Homo sapiens: one gene and its partner. The protein of the gene in region 2 binds, or shares a complex with, the protein of the main gene of each other region. Each region holds a gene or a part of one and is shown on either strand. Other genes may lie near its edges.

Evidence for each region.
Region 1: SRSF1 (region 2) and PA2G4 share a complex: the UniProt entries of both Homo sapiens proteins name them as parts of the ribonucleoprotein complex.

What each region holds. Positions count from the first base shown.
Region 1 is NC_000012.12:56,106,778-56,115,037, forward strand, and holds the end of PA2G4 (proliferation-associated protein 2G4), read left to right. Parts: intron 1-212; coding exon 213-318; intron 319-409; coding exon 410-479; intron 480-743; coding exon 744-836; intron 837-2,452; coding exon 2,453-2,516; intron 2,517-3,079; coding exon 3,080-3,158; intron 3,159-3,621; coding exon 3,622-3,700; intron 3,701-3,781; coding exon 3,782-3,915; intron 3,916-4,186; coding exon 4,187-4,281; intron 4,282-4,404; coding exon 4,405-4,532; intron 4,533-4,698; coding exon 4,699-4,752; intron 4,753-6,045; coding exon 6,046-6,111; 3' UTR 6,112-7,133; downstream 7,134-8,260. UniProt on the Homo sapiens protein: May play a role in a ERBB3-regulated signal transduction pathway. Seems be involved in growth regulation. Acts a corepressor of the androgen receptor (AR) and is regulated by the ERBB3 ligand neuregulin-1/heregulin (HRG).
Region 2 is NC_000017.11:57,999,504-58,003,898, reverse strand, and holds the end of SRSF1 (serine/arginine-rich splicing factor 1), read left to right. Parts: 3' UTR 1-2,980; downstream 2,981-4,395. UniProt on the Homo sapiens protein: Plays a role in preventing exon skipping, ensuring the accuracy of splicing and regulating alternative splicing.

The sequences.
Region 1 (8,260 bases), on a different chromosome or scaffold from region 2:
TATTTTTTTCACTGTAATGACGCAGTCCCCACCCCAGCTCTGGCTGAGGTATTTGGAAATTTGGAATGGCAAGTGGGATACAAGCAGTTTCCTACCTAATCCAAACTGATGAAACTTAAGCAAGACCCTGAAAAAATCCTTCTACATTTCTGAAGGGCACTAGGGCTCCCGGGAGACAGCAAGGCAGTAGGCTGATGATTCTTTCTTTACAGGTATTGCTTTTCCCACCAGCATTTCGGTAAATAACTGTGTATGTCACTTCTCCCCTTTGAAGAGCGACCAGGATTATATTCTCAAGGAAGGTGACTTGGTAAAAATGTAAGGTTAAACCGTTTTAAAGCATTTTTCTTTTTTTAAAGCATTTACAAAATGCCAGTTCCTAATGCAGTACTCTGATCTTGCCTTTCAGTGACCTTGGGGTCCATGTGGATGGCTTCATCGCTAATGTAGCTCACACTTTTGTGGTTGATGTAGCTCAGGTAGGTGGCCTGCTTTTGATCTCTGTTTAGCCTTGGGGTAGAGGGAATGCACTGCCATTTGCTTCTTATCCCCACCCCCAATCACCACGTAAGTTGAGAGAGTCTCTAGAGAAGCAAAAGGAGAAAGGTTTTTGTTGTTGTTGTTGTTTTTACCCTCCTGTTCATTGGCTGGTCTTCGCATATGGGCTCACAGATATTAACCAGATAGCCAGCTGAGTTAACAGACTTTCCAGGAAGATACTGATTGCATGTCCTTATCTACAGGGGACCCAAGTAACAGGGAGGAAAGCAGATGTTATTAAGGCAGCTCACCTTTGTGCTGAAGCTGCCCTACGCCTGGTCAAACCTGGAAATCAGGTAAGCTATTTTATCCAATTCCAAAGCTCGTTTGAACCAAAGATGCATTAGGCACCTATAGCTACTCTATATGAAACTACCAACCTCCCCTACAGACCCCTTATAAAACAGCTTTTTAAAATTAGCTATATTTAGCTGGGCACAGTGACTCACATCTGTAATCCCATCACTTTGGGGGGCCAAGGTAGGAGGATAGCTTGAGGCTGGGAGTTCAAGACCAGCCTGGGAAACATGGTGAAACCCCATTTCTACAAAAAATACAAAAATTAGCTGGGCGTGGTAACATGTGCCTGTATTCCCAGCTTCCAGGGAGGCTGAGGTGGGAGAATCACCTGAGCCTGGGAGATTGAGGCTGTGCTGAGCTATGATCATGCCACTGCACTCCAGCCTGGGCAACAATGAAACCCTGTCTCACAAAAGAAAAAGGAAAAATAAGCATTTGCTGTCCCCACAAAACAGATTAGAATGCCAGGTAAAAAAGGATAAACACTGGACTTAATATTATAGGCATGTGGTGGCACATGCCTGTAATCCCAGCACTTTGGGAGGCCAAGGTGGGAGGATTGCTTGAACCCAGGCATTTGAGACCAGCTTGGGAAACATAGCGAGACCCGTCTACAAAAAGAAAAAAGAAAACCCAGGTTTATGACCAAGTTCTTTCACTTAACACTCATTTAACCTGGGGCAAATCATTTAACCTGAGACTCAGTTTCCTTGTCTTCTAGATTGGGATATACATCTGCCCTGTTCACATGCAAAATTTATTGAGTTAGACCATCTTTGTGAAAGCACTGGGTAAAATGATATGCAGTTACAGCTGGTCCTCAGCTTGATGCTACATTCAGTAGAAGCTATACTTTGAGTACCCATACAACCATTCTGTTTTTCATTTTCCATATAGTATTTAGTAAATTACATGAGATATTCAACACTAATATAAAATAGGCATGTGTTAGATAATTCTGCCCAACTGTAGGATAATGTTTTTTAAGTGCTCTGAGCACATTTAACATAGGCTAGGCTGTGATGTTAGGTAGGTTAGGGGTATTAAATGCATTTTTGACTTAGTGATATTTTCAACTTATGAGTTTTTTGGAGATGTAACCCCATTGCAAGTTGGGGAGCATCTGTATAAAGTATTTTTAGATTGTAGGGATAATCAAGCTATGAAATGAAAAACCAGTGAATGACAATCATTGGGGCTTGATGGAGGATATTAGAACGCTCAGTTCTGCCAGGTGCAATGGCTCATGCCTGTAATCCCAGCACTTTGGGAGGCTGAGGTGGGCAGATCACGAGGTCAGGAGATCGAGACCATCCTGGCCAACATGGTGAAACCCCGTCTCTTCTAAAAATACAAAAATTAGCTGGGCGTGGTGTTGCGTGCCTGTAATCCCAGCTACTCAGGAGGCTGAGGCAGGAGAATAGCTTGAACCCGGGAGGCAGAGATTGCAGTGAGCCAAGATCACGCCACTGCACTCCAGCCTGGTGACAAAGCCAGACTCCATCTCAAAAAAAAAAAAAAAAACGCTCAGTTCTTTTATGCTTCTTATTCTCATTGTAGAGAACTTATTAGCTCCTGATATCTCACCTTTCATTTGATGTTGTACTTCTAGAACACACAAGTGACAGAAGCCTGGAACAAAGTTGCCCACTCATTTAACTGCACGCCAATAGAAGGTGAGAACAGATAACAGGGTTGAGGGTCTAAGAATGAGTGGCTTTGCCAGGTGCGGTGGCTCACGCCTGTAATCCCAGAACTTTGGGAGGCTGAGGTGGGCGGATCACCTGAGGTCAGGAGTTTGAGACTAGCCTGGCCAACATGGTGAAACCCCGTCTCTACTAAAAATATAAAAATTAGCTGGGCGTGGTGGTGGGTGCCTGTAATCCCAGCTACTTGGGAGGCTAAGGCGAGATAATCGCTTGAACCCGGGAGGAGGAGGTTGCAGTGAGCCAAGATTGCGCCACTGCACTCCAGTCTGGGCAATAAGAGCGAAACTCCATCTCCTCCATCTCAAAAAAAAAAAAAAAAAGAATGAGTGGCTTTGCAGAATTGAGGCTTTTGCTCCCTTGAAGATCTATCCTGGCTATAACCCAGTCTAAGCCAGAAATCTCAGAGCCCTGTGTTTCCATAACCAGGTAGTTGTCTCACTGCCTACCACTTCAAACTACTGAAGTGGGTGGATTTGGAAACCTTTTGGGATACTGGATAGCTTGTTCCATAGGTTGTGTACTATCTACAGGTATGCTGTCACACCAGTTGAAGCAGCATGTCATCGATGGAGAAAAAACCATTATCCAGAATCCCACAGACCAGCAGAAGTAGGTGCCAACCCTACTTATTACCTTCTACCACACAAGACTAGTCATCAGGTTTTTTTCTATACTCCCAACTGAATCTTGTCCGCCCTCTACTCCATGTTTTCAGGAGTGACCTGTTGCTCTTAATATTCCCTTTCTCTAGGCCGGGCGCGGTGGCTCACGCCTGTAATCCCAGCACTTTGGGAGGCTGAGGCGGGTGGATCACCTGAGGTCACGAGTTCAGAACCAGCCTAACCAACATGGCGAAACCCTGTCTCTACTAAAAACTACAAAAATGAGCCAGGCCTGGTGGTTTGTGCCTATAGTCCCAGCTACTTGGGAGGCTGAGGCAGGAGAGTTGCTTGGACCCGGGAGGTGGAGGTTGCAGTGAGCTGAGATTGTGCCACTGCACTCCAGCCTGGGTGACAGAATGAGACTCTGTGTCAAAAAAAAAAAAAAATTCCTTTCTCTCTATTCCTTTTAGGAAGGACCATGAAAAAGCTGAATTTGAGGTACATGAAGTATATGCTGTGGATGTTCTCGTCAGCTCAGGAGAGGGCAAGGTGAGGAGAGTACCAGAGTTGGCAAAGAGGGGTGACTGAGAGTGTTCACCAGACCAAATGTTACTTAAATTACTCTTTCAGGCCAAGGATGCAGGACAGAGAACCACTATTTACAAACGAGACCCCTCTAAACAGTATGGACTGAAAATGAAAACTTCACGTGCCTTCTTCAGTGAGGTGGAAAGGCGTTTTGATGCCATGCCGTTTACTTTAAGGTACTAAGCAATGATAGTACTTGGAACCAGTCTGACTCACAGACCATACACCCAGGAACACTTTTTCCTCTCCCTTCCTGCCTAGACTTGTAGCGTGCATGTGCTCACTCCCTCCCTCTCTCTCCCCATCTCCTTCTCATTGAAGGTAATGTAAAAGAGCAATCCTAAGCATGATTTCTGCCTGAGGGTAGGAGCTATTTTAAAATATGAGCAAAATGGTAAGACTTGATGGGGAGTTAAAGATACCTCTGAATATCATCTTCCCTGCCAGAGCATTTGAAGATGAGAAGAAGGCTCGGATGGGTGTGGTGGAGTGCGCCAAACATGAACTGCTGCAACCATTTAATGTTCTCTATGAGAAGGAGGGTGAGTTCCAAAAAGAGCTTCACTTTGGATTCCCTGATTATAAGATATCCTTCCTGTAAGTTCAGAAGAGCTAAGTATGACAAAGGAACTTTTTATCAAAACACATCTTCATTTTTGCCATAGGTGAATTTGTTGCCCAGTTTAAATTTACAGTTCTGCTCATGCCCAATGGCCCCATGCGGATAACCAGTGGTCCCTTCGAGCCTGACCTCTACAAGTCTGAGATGGAGGTCCAGGATGCAGAGCTAAAGGTTAGTATGGAATAGAAGGTGGTGAGTATGTACATGGTATCCTGCTTGGGAGTGAGGGCTAAATGCCAGCAAAGTCCTGAAAAGAGCTGCAGTACTGAAAGTAACCCTTTATTTTTAATTTCCTCCACATTTCTCAAAATTTTTTTCCCTTCTTCCTGTTTTCCAGGCCCTCCTCCAGAGTTCTGCAAGTCGAAAAACCCAGAAAAAGAAAAAAAAGAAGGTGTGTTATTAACGATCATTCCTCTCTGGCAGGGTGAACCTGATCCCTCTTTCTCCCACTGTGTTAAGTTGTAGTGAAATACGGATTTTTATACAGATGCTCCTCAACTTATATGATAGAACTTTGTCCCAGTAAACCCATCATAAATTGAAAATACTGTAAGTCAAAATGGATTTTAAAATATATATATATATATTTTAAGAGACAGAGTCTCAAACTCCTGGCCTTGAACAGTCCTTCCACCTCAGCCTCCCAAACTGTTGGGATTACAGGCATGAGCTGCCATGCCCAGCCTTGCTTTGGCCGGGCACAGTGGCTCATGCCTGTAATCCCAGCACTTTGGGAGGCTAAGGCGGATGGATCACCTGAGGTCAGGAGTTTGAGATCAGCCTGACCAACACAGAGAGAAACCCCGTCTCTACTAAAAATACAAAATTAGCTGGGTGTGGTGGCACACGCTTATAATCCCAGCTACTCGGGAGGCTAAGGCAGGAGAATTGTTTGAATCTGGGAGGCAGAGGTTGCAGTGGGCCGAGATCGCACCATTGCGCTCCGGCCTGCGCAACAAGAGCGAAACTCTGTCTCCAAAAAAGAGATGATCTCACTGTGTCACCCAGGCTGACGTGTAGAGGCATGATCATAGCTCACTGTATCCTCAAACTCCTCCTGGGTTCAAGTGATTGTCCTGCCTTGACCTGCTGAGTAGCCACCACCATGCCTGGCTCAAAATGGATTTGATGTACCTTAACCTACCATGAACCTCATAGCTTAGCCTGGCCTACCTTGAATGTGCTCAAAACATTTATTGAACAAATTATCATGTATCGAAATATCCATATTGCTTTCACGCCATTGTGAAGTTGAAAAATCACAAGTTGACCATTGTAAGTCAGAGACCTGTATGTCTTTATTTCAGCTGTGACCCAGAGGATTGAGATAACTTTATGGCTGGGTGTGGTGGTTCACACATATAATCCCAACAGTTTGGGAGGCCTAGGCAGGAGCATCACTTGAGCCCAGGAGTTCAAGATCAGCCCGGGCAACATGGTGAAACCTCATCTCTACAAAAAATACAAAAAAGTTGTACATGGTGGCATATGCCTATAGTCCCAGCTACCTGGGAGGCTGAGGTGAGAGGATCACCTGAGCCCAGGGAAGTGGTACCACTGCACTCCAGCCTGGAAAACAGAGTGAGACTGTCTCAGAAAAAAAAATACTTTTATCTCTGGTCCCAGACATCCCCAAGTAGTTAGAAACTGACAGGTCTTCTCCCTCTCCTTTTCTTGCATATAGGCCTCCAAGACTGCAGAGAATGCCACCAGTGGGGAAACATTAGAAGAAAATGAAGCTGGGGACTGAGGTGGGTCCCATCTCCCCAGCTTGCTGCTCCTGCCTCATCCCCTTCCCACCAAACCCCAGACTCTGTGAAGTGCAGTTCTTCTCCACCTAGGACCGCCAGCAGAGCGGGGGGATCTCCCTGCCCCCACCCCAGTTCCCCAACCCACTCCCTTCCAACAACAACCAGCTCCAACTGACTCTGGTCTTGGGAGGTGAGGCTTCCCAACCACGGAAGACTACTTTAAATGAAAAAAAGAAATTGAATAATAAAATCAGGAGTCAAAATTCATCGTCTTCAAGCCCCTCTTTCTAGCCTTTTCTACTACTCTCTGCTTGGTCAAGGTTTGTGCCCCACTACAGAACAGGGCTAAATTAGCCACCACCACTGAAAACTCAGCCGAATTTTTTTATACCACTCTGATGTCAGCATTTTTTCCATCTGTTTGGGGCTTTTTCCTCTTTTTTCCATTCTCCCCAAATATTTTATCTGGCTTCAAAATTAAGAGGATTATTTTTCAGATTGTTTTTATTCAGTGTGGCCGATTCCTCATCTGATTCAGGCTGTCCAGTCAGGCCCCTCCCATTTTAGGAGCTGGAGCCTTCATTTATGAAGAGATTCTCATCTATGAAATGGATCCTCATTTGTAAATCTTTTTTCTTCCATTTTCACAAAGCTGTAAAGAAATAATCCATCTCAACCTTACCCTTTTTCTCTGGAGTCAGTGGGGTCTTTCCTCGCTCCATCTTACACAGACCTGAGCTGGAAGCTCAACTGGTTTTGTTCCCTGTTTGAAATATTGTGATCTCCCTCCCATGAAAGAAAAACCAAGAACCAGAGGCGTAGACTGACTGAAGACACAACTCCTGGCTTTCTGAAGCTATGGACTTGGATTGGATTGCTGGGGGTTTGTAGAGAAAGGTGACAAATTTCAGTACCTCTGGCATGCTGTCCCAGGAAACTAGGGCTCCCACTAACTTATGAGGTTTTTAAACACATTGAAAATGACATGACATTAAAATAAATTTGGATTTGCTCATAATGATGTGCTTTGTATGCTGCTCTTGTTTGATGGAGGTGGGGAGAATGTCAGTTGAAGTGGTATTGGAACTGTTCCTCCACAGTGCCATGCTCTACCTTCCCAAAACGAGGAATGTCTTGACTTGCAGAAGACACAAATCTTAGAATCTTTGATGATATAGTAATCTGCTGGAGTTGGGTGGTGTAATTTTCTAAGTAGAAACAGTCCTCACTGCTAAGATTTGTTTGGGGCTAGGACACAATGTCTACTGCAAAAACAGTACTGCAAGTGTTTATCTTGAATTCAAGAAGCCAGGAAGAATGGTACACTAGTTTTCAGGGCCAGACTAAGGTCAGATGGGTAATTAGTTTATCTTACTACATGTCAGGAATTGCTAAACTAGAGATACTACAAGTGAACAGAACTGAACACAGGTCAAATGTGTAATGATGTATATCTACCATTAAAATAGAGTAGTTTTAGTGCCCTAAAAATCCTCTGTGTTTTGCCTGTTCATCTCTCTCTCCTTGCTTACGCATTTGTCCAAAGGCAAAGAATGTACAATGCCAATGCCAAGAGTGAACCCTAGTGTAAACTAAACTATGGATTTGGGGTGATAATGGTATATCAACGTAGGTTCTATTGTTAACAAATGTACCACTCTGGCAGGGTGGAGTGATGTTTATAAAGGGGGAGGCTATATGTGTGGGAAATGTCTATACCTTTCTCAATTTTGCTGTGAACCTAAAACTGTTCTAAAAAATTAAGTCTATTAAAAAAAGAAAAAAACAGCCAAGTGCGGTGGCTTATACCTGTAATTCCAGCACTTTGGGAGGCCGACGCAGGCAGATCACCTGAGGTCAGGAGATCAAGACCAGCCTGGCCAACATGGTGAAACCCCATCTCTACTAAAAATATAAAAAGCCAGGCTTAGTGGCGGGCGCCTGTAATCCCAGCTACTTGGGAGGCTGAGGCAGGAGAATCGCTTGAACCCAGGAGGCGGAGGTTGCAGTGAGCCAAGATCGCGCCACTGCACTCCAGCCTGGGTGACAGGAGTGAGATTCCATTCCGTATCAAAAACAAGCAAACAAAATTTCCCTCAAAGAGCTTATAAACTAGTTGGCAATCATCAGTTGAAATCTTGGTGGAAC
Region 2 (4,395 bases):
TGGAGCGGGATCAGATTACCAGGAACATAGGAGTGGATTCCTGCCCCAACCAAACCGCATTCGTGTGGATTTTTTTATTCAACTTAATTGGCTATTCCAAAGATTTTTTTTTTCCTATTTTTGACGATTGGAGCCCTTAAGATGCACGATGGAATTGTGTTTTGCGTTTTTTGGTAAAAGGAGCAAAGCGAGGACCTGGAGATAAACGCTGGAGCAATCTCCTTGGAAGGATTCAGCACGAGTAGATGGTAAACATTTAAAGGGGAAAGGGGGGGTTTGTTTAAAATAGTAAATCAGTAAGTCACTTCTAAATTTAAAGAAAACAAAATTGGAGTTGAAGAATAAGTAGGTTTCCAATTGGCTATTGCCGTTTTCTTTGAAAAAATAAACATTTTTTAAAAAACTATGCATGGTTGTCCTTTTTCCTCTTCATGTAAGATTCTAACTGGGTCTATCAGTTAATCTTTAAATTGTTAAGTAAGATAAGATTTTGACTCTTGTGTTAATGTGTTAGCAAATTAAAAGTTCTTAAAAGGCAATCTAATGGTATTAGCCATCTTTTATTGTTAATTGTAAAAGTCTTCAGGGGAAAGCAAAAGGGGAGAATAAGGCATTTGTGTATGTAACTTGGTAAATGACGGTGGGGGATGGATCTAGCATCTGAAAGATAAGCTTCTCTACTTTGTTATAAAGTGGTTAAAAAACTATAGATGCTGCTTATTTTCTGGTGGTCATAGACAACATAGGCTTTTGTGCAAAATTGGTTGATGGCTACTAATGTTCACTTGGAGATAGCTTTTGATATTCTCAATGAAACTCATCTCAAAAAAAGGTAAGTATTAAATGTTAACATCAGCACAGATGTATTAGAACTGTTTTTTGTTTTTGAGACAGAGTCTCGCTCTGTTCTCCAGACTGGAGGGCAGTGGTGTGATCTAGGCTCACTGCAACCTCCACCCCTGGATTTGAGTGATTCTCGTGCCTCAGTCTCCCAAGTAGCTGAGACTACAAGTGTGTGCCACCCTTGCCCGGCTAATTTTGTATTTTTAGTAGAGATGTGGTTTCTCTGTGTTACCCAGGCTGGTCCCAAAACTCCTGGCCTCAAGTGATCTGCCTGCCTTGGCCTCCCAAAGTGTTAGGATTACAGGTGTGAGCCACCATGCTCAGCCTGTAGAACTTTTAACCCAAGTCTCATTTCTTTTTTGAAAGGGAAGAGTGCACAAGATTAACTGCTTCTTTGGATGAATCATTGTTAATAAAAAGCTGGGCATTTAGAATTTTGCCTTATAAGCCCTTCTCCAACCATAAGATTATTTTGTACCAAAAACTTTGGTGTTCTCTACCAAAGCAGTTAAAAACTTTTAGCCTGCTACTTCTTGTATTTGTCTACTGACAGCCCCTTGGTACTATTTAGGTTGGGGGAGGGGACCTAAAATAAATAGACTTTAACATTTCCCTTGGGTGCTAATCATAGTTGGAAGTTGAATTTAAGGTGATTATTTGGGTGACAATTAAAAACCTAAGGAAAACCAGAAATCTTGGTAGTGGAAGAAATGTGTAAGGTCACCCCAATCGGTAGATTTTAATGAACGTTGTGGAATGTTGGGAAGAGGGGATGTTAAGTTGAATGCAGAATTTCACTAAGTACTTAGTGTAAGTTTAAGGATGTAGCTCTTTTTATCTAAGAATTCAATGTAATGGCCAAAAGGCAGATTTACTGTTTAAAAATTTGAATAATTTTACATGACATTCTTGAAATTCTAAGAAGTTTTATGTGTAGAACATTTTAAAAATTCATCAGATTATTAAAGGGAAAATAAATGATTAATGATAATTTTGGAAGGTTAATGTGAGCTAGACTTAAGTAAACTTTGGTTCATTTGTGTTCATTGAATGTTTTGGAAATGACCAAAAAATGTAAATGGCCTTCACTCAAGTTTGAGTGTTTAAAGTTGAAAGATGTGCTCTACTAAAAGTTATAGTAATTCTAACCTCACATTGAAATGAGACAGTATTCCTTGTTATACAGGCTGAATTTGAAGATTAGAGAGGATCTAATGTTTACTTAGGTAAAGGGGCATAGGTTTTGTAGTTAAGATGACCAGACAGCTAAAAGCTGTGATGGGAAGTATGGACTGCTCCTATTTATAGTCTCAGAAAATGGACCTTTAGGTCTCTATCCGTATTGGCAATTATTAGAAGAAAGTTACACCCTTTTGAAACTACAAAAGCTGTCTTGGAATTTCCCCCTCTTCTCCCTATTTATGTCCCCTTAGAATATTTTAGGGAGCCTATAATTATTTTCTAACCAAGGAAAAACTTAAGTCTCTTTAAGAAGCAATTACTTTTCATAACATCAGATTGAATAACCCACCTTGCTGTTCAGCCCACATCCTACTGGAAACAAAAGGTAAGAAACCCATTTTCTGGTTCTTGATTGTTTGGGTCTGAATTTTGTTTTTAAAACTAAGCTAAGTTTAATGTTTTTTAAAATGCTGTTTGGAATATGAATAGATTCCCCGTAAAATGATTTTTCCTAAGTTTTATGCTTTAGTAAATATTCAGTGCTCACGTCTGTGCATCATAGTGCTTGCGTTTAATATGATTTATTGTAGAATCTCAACTTTTCTTGGTGTTTGTTGTCTTTGAAACATTGTCTTGGTCATTAGGGCTGGTGTTTTCACATTTCTGTGGTCAAGGTGGATTTCTTATGTGTGCCTTTTTGCTTACTTTGTATATGAATTTTGTAATTTAAATTGCAAGTAAGTTATATATATGTATTTACCATAAATAGTATTAAAAGATGAGAAACTGTTAGACTGAAGTTCTGTTGTAACATAACCATTATTTCCATCACAGTATGAAGACTGCAAACGCAGAAAACAGATTACAGTCTCTTATCCATTTTTTGAAATCCAAAAACTACGAAAACAAAAGATTTTCTGTTGTTGAGCTAATTAAATGTGAACCCTGACCAGAATTGCTGCCTTCATTTTGCACTTAGTGTGACTAAACTGTTTCCTGTTGAACTTCATTATTCATTGCACAGTTGCCACAGACTTTGCTGAGGGTTTTATGTAATACAGGGTATATATGTACCTCATAAAGTGCATACAGCTCTGAATCCCAGATATGTCTGTCTCCAAAGAGTTCATATAAGGGATTGTAGGAACTGTACTAGCATACACAGGCCTAATGCTTTTGTCTGTAACTGGGGTGTCTTGACTGAAAAACCTGTTATTGTGAATCCTTTGTTGATTGAATTTTAAGTTCCCCCATCTTTTTAGGCTGAAGCAGCCACAAGAAAAAAAGGTATGGCCCACATTTCTTTACATTCTGTTGTAATAGTGGACTCAACAATTATATCCCATTGAAGCAAATACTCAGGCATCCTAGAGTGTACAATACAACATTCTTTTGAGTTATTGTTTCTGTATCAGTACTTAAAGGAACATTGACCAATTAGATCCTATAGGAAAAGCTGGGATTGGCATGAAGTAAAGAGATTATCAGGAAACATCTGTTCATTATGTCTATCGTGATTGTCTATTGAATGAATAGTAATGCTGCCAAAAGTAACTTGCTTTAAACAAACCCCAAGAGATTATAGTATACTTAAACCAGTACTTATTCCTGTTATTGAGACCTTCACGGTGCTTCTTGGTAGCTTTGAAAGCTAATGCCTAACAACCCTGAGGGTTCTTGTGAGCTTGTAGTGATTAAAGGAAGGATTTTTTAATTATTATAAAAATCACTCCGTGCTTCATTAATGCACAGAATAAAAATTGAATAAATGACTCTGTCATATAGAAGTTAATTTAGGCAAATATAACATTTGTAATTTACAACATTTTAATAGGTGCTAGGCTGGGATTTCAGGGGGTGAAAAGTCATTCATGACTTTTCATAAGAAGTTTACTGTTTAGGTAAGCAAAACAACACTTAGTTCAGCTTGATACTCAAGCATCGGGTTAAAAAGCATCAGACTTCTGTTACCAGACAACTTATAAGTGCCAACTATTGGTAGAACTGTGGACATGAAGATAGTGGAAACAGCTTCTCTAGGATGCTATACTCATCTCCACCAAATGCACTTTGAACAAAAACAACTTGTAGAAATAGGTCTTAATTTTTTTTGTTTGTTTGTTTGGTTTTTTTACAACATGCTGTACTGCTCTCCATTGGTAAGTGCTAGGGAAAATCACTTAGCCACTAGAGGGAGCTATAACACAAAATTAAGCAGGAAATAATCCCCATTATAGATACATAGAACAAAGTAGAGACCAGCTAACTACCTTGATCCTCTGTATCAGCTCTAAAGTTAGATGGTTTGGGTAAGTTTTCTTGCAACTTTACCTTTGTCTTCCCATCTTTTGTGTAAAATTCTTCCCCTTT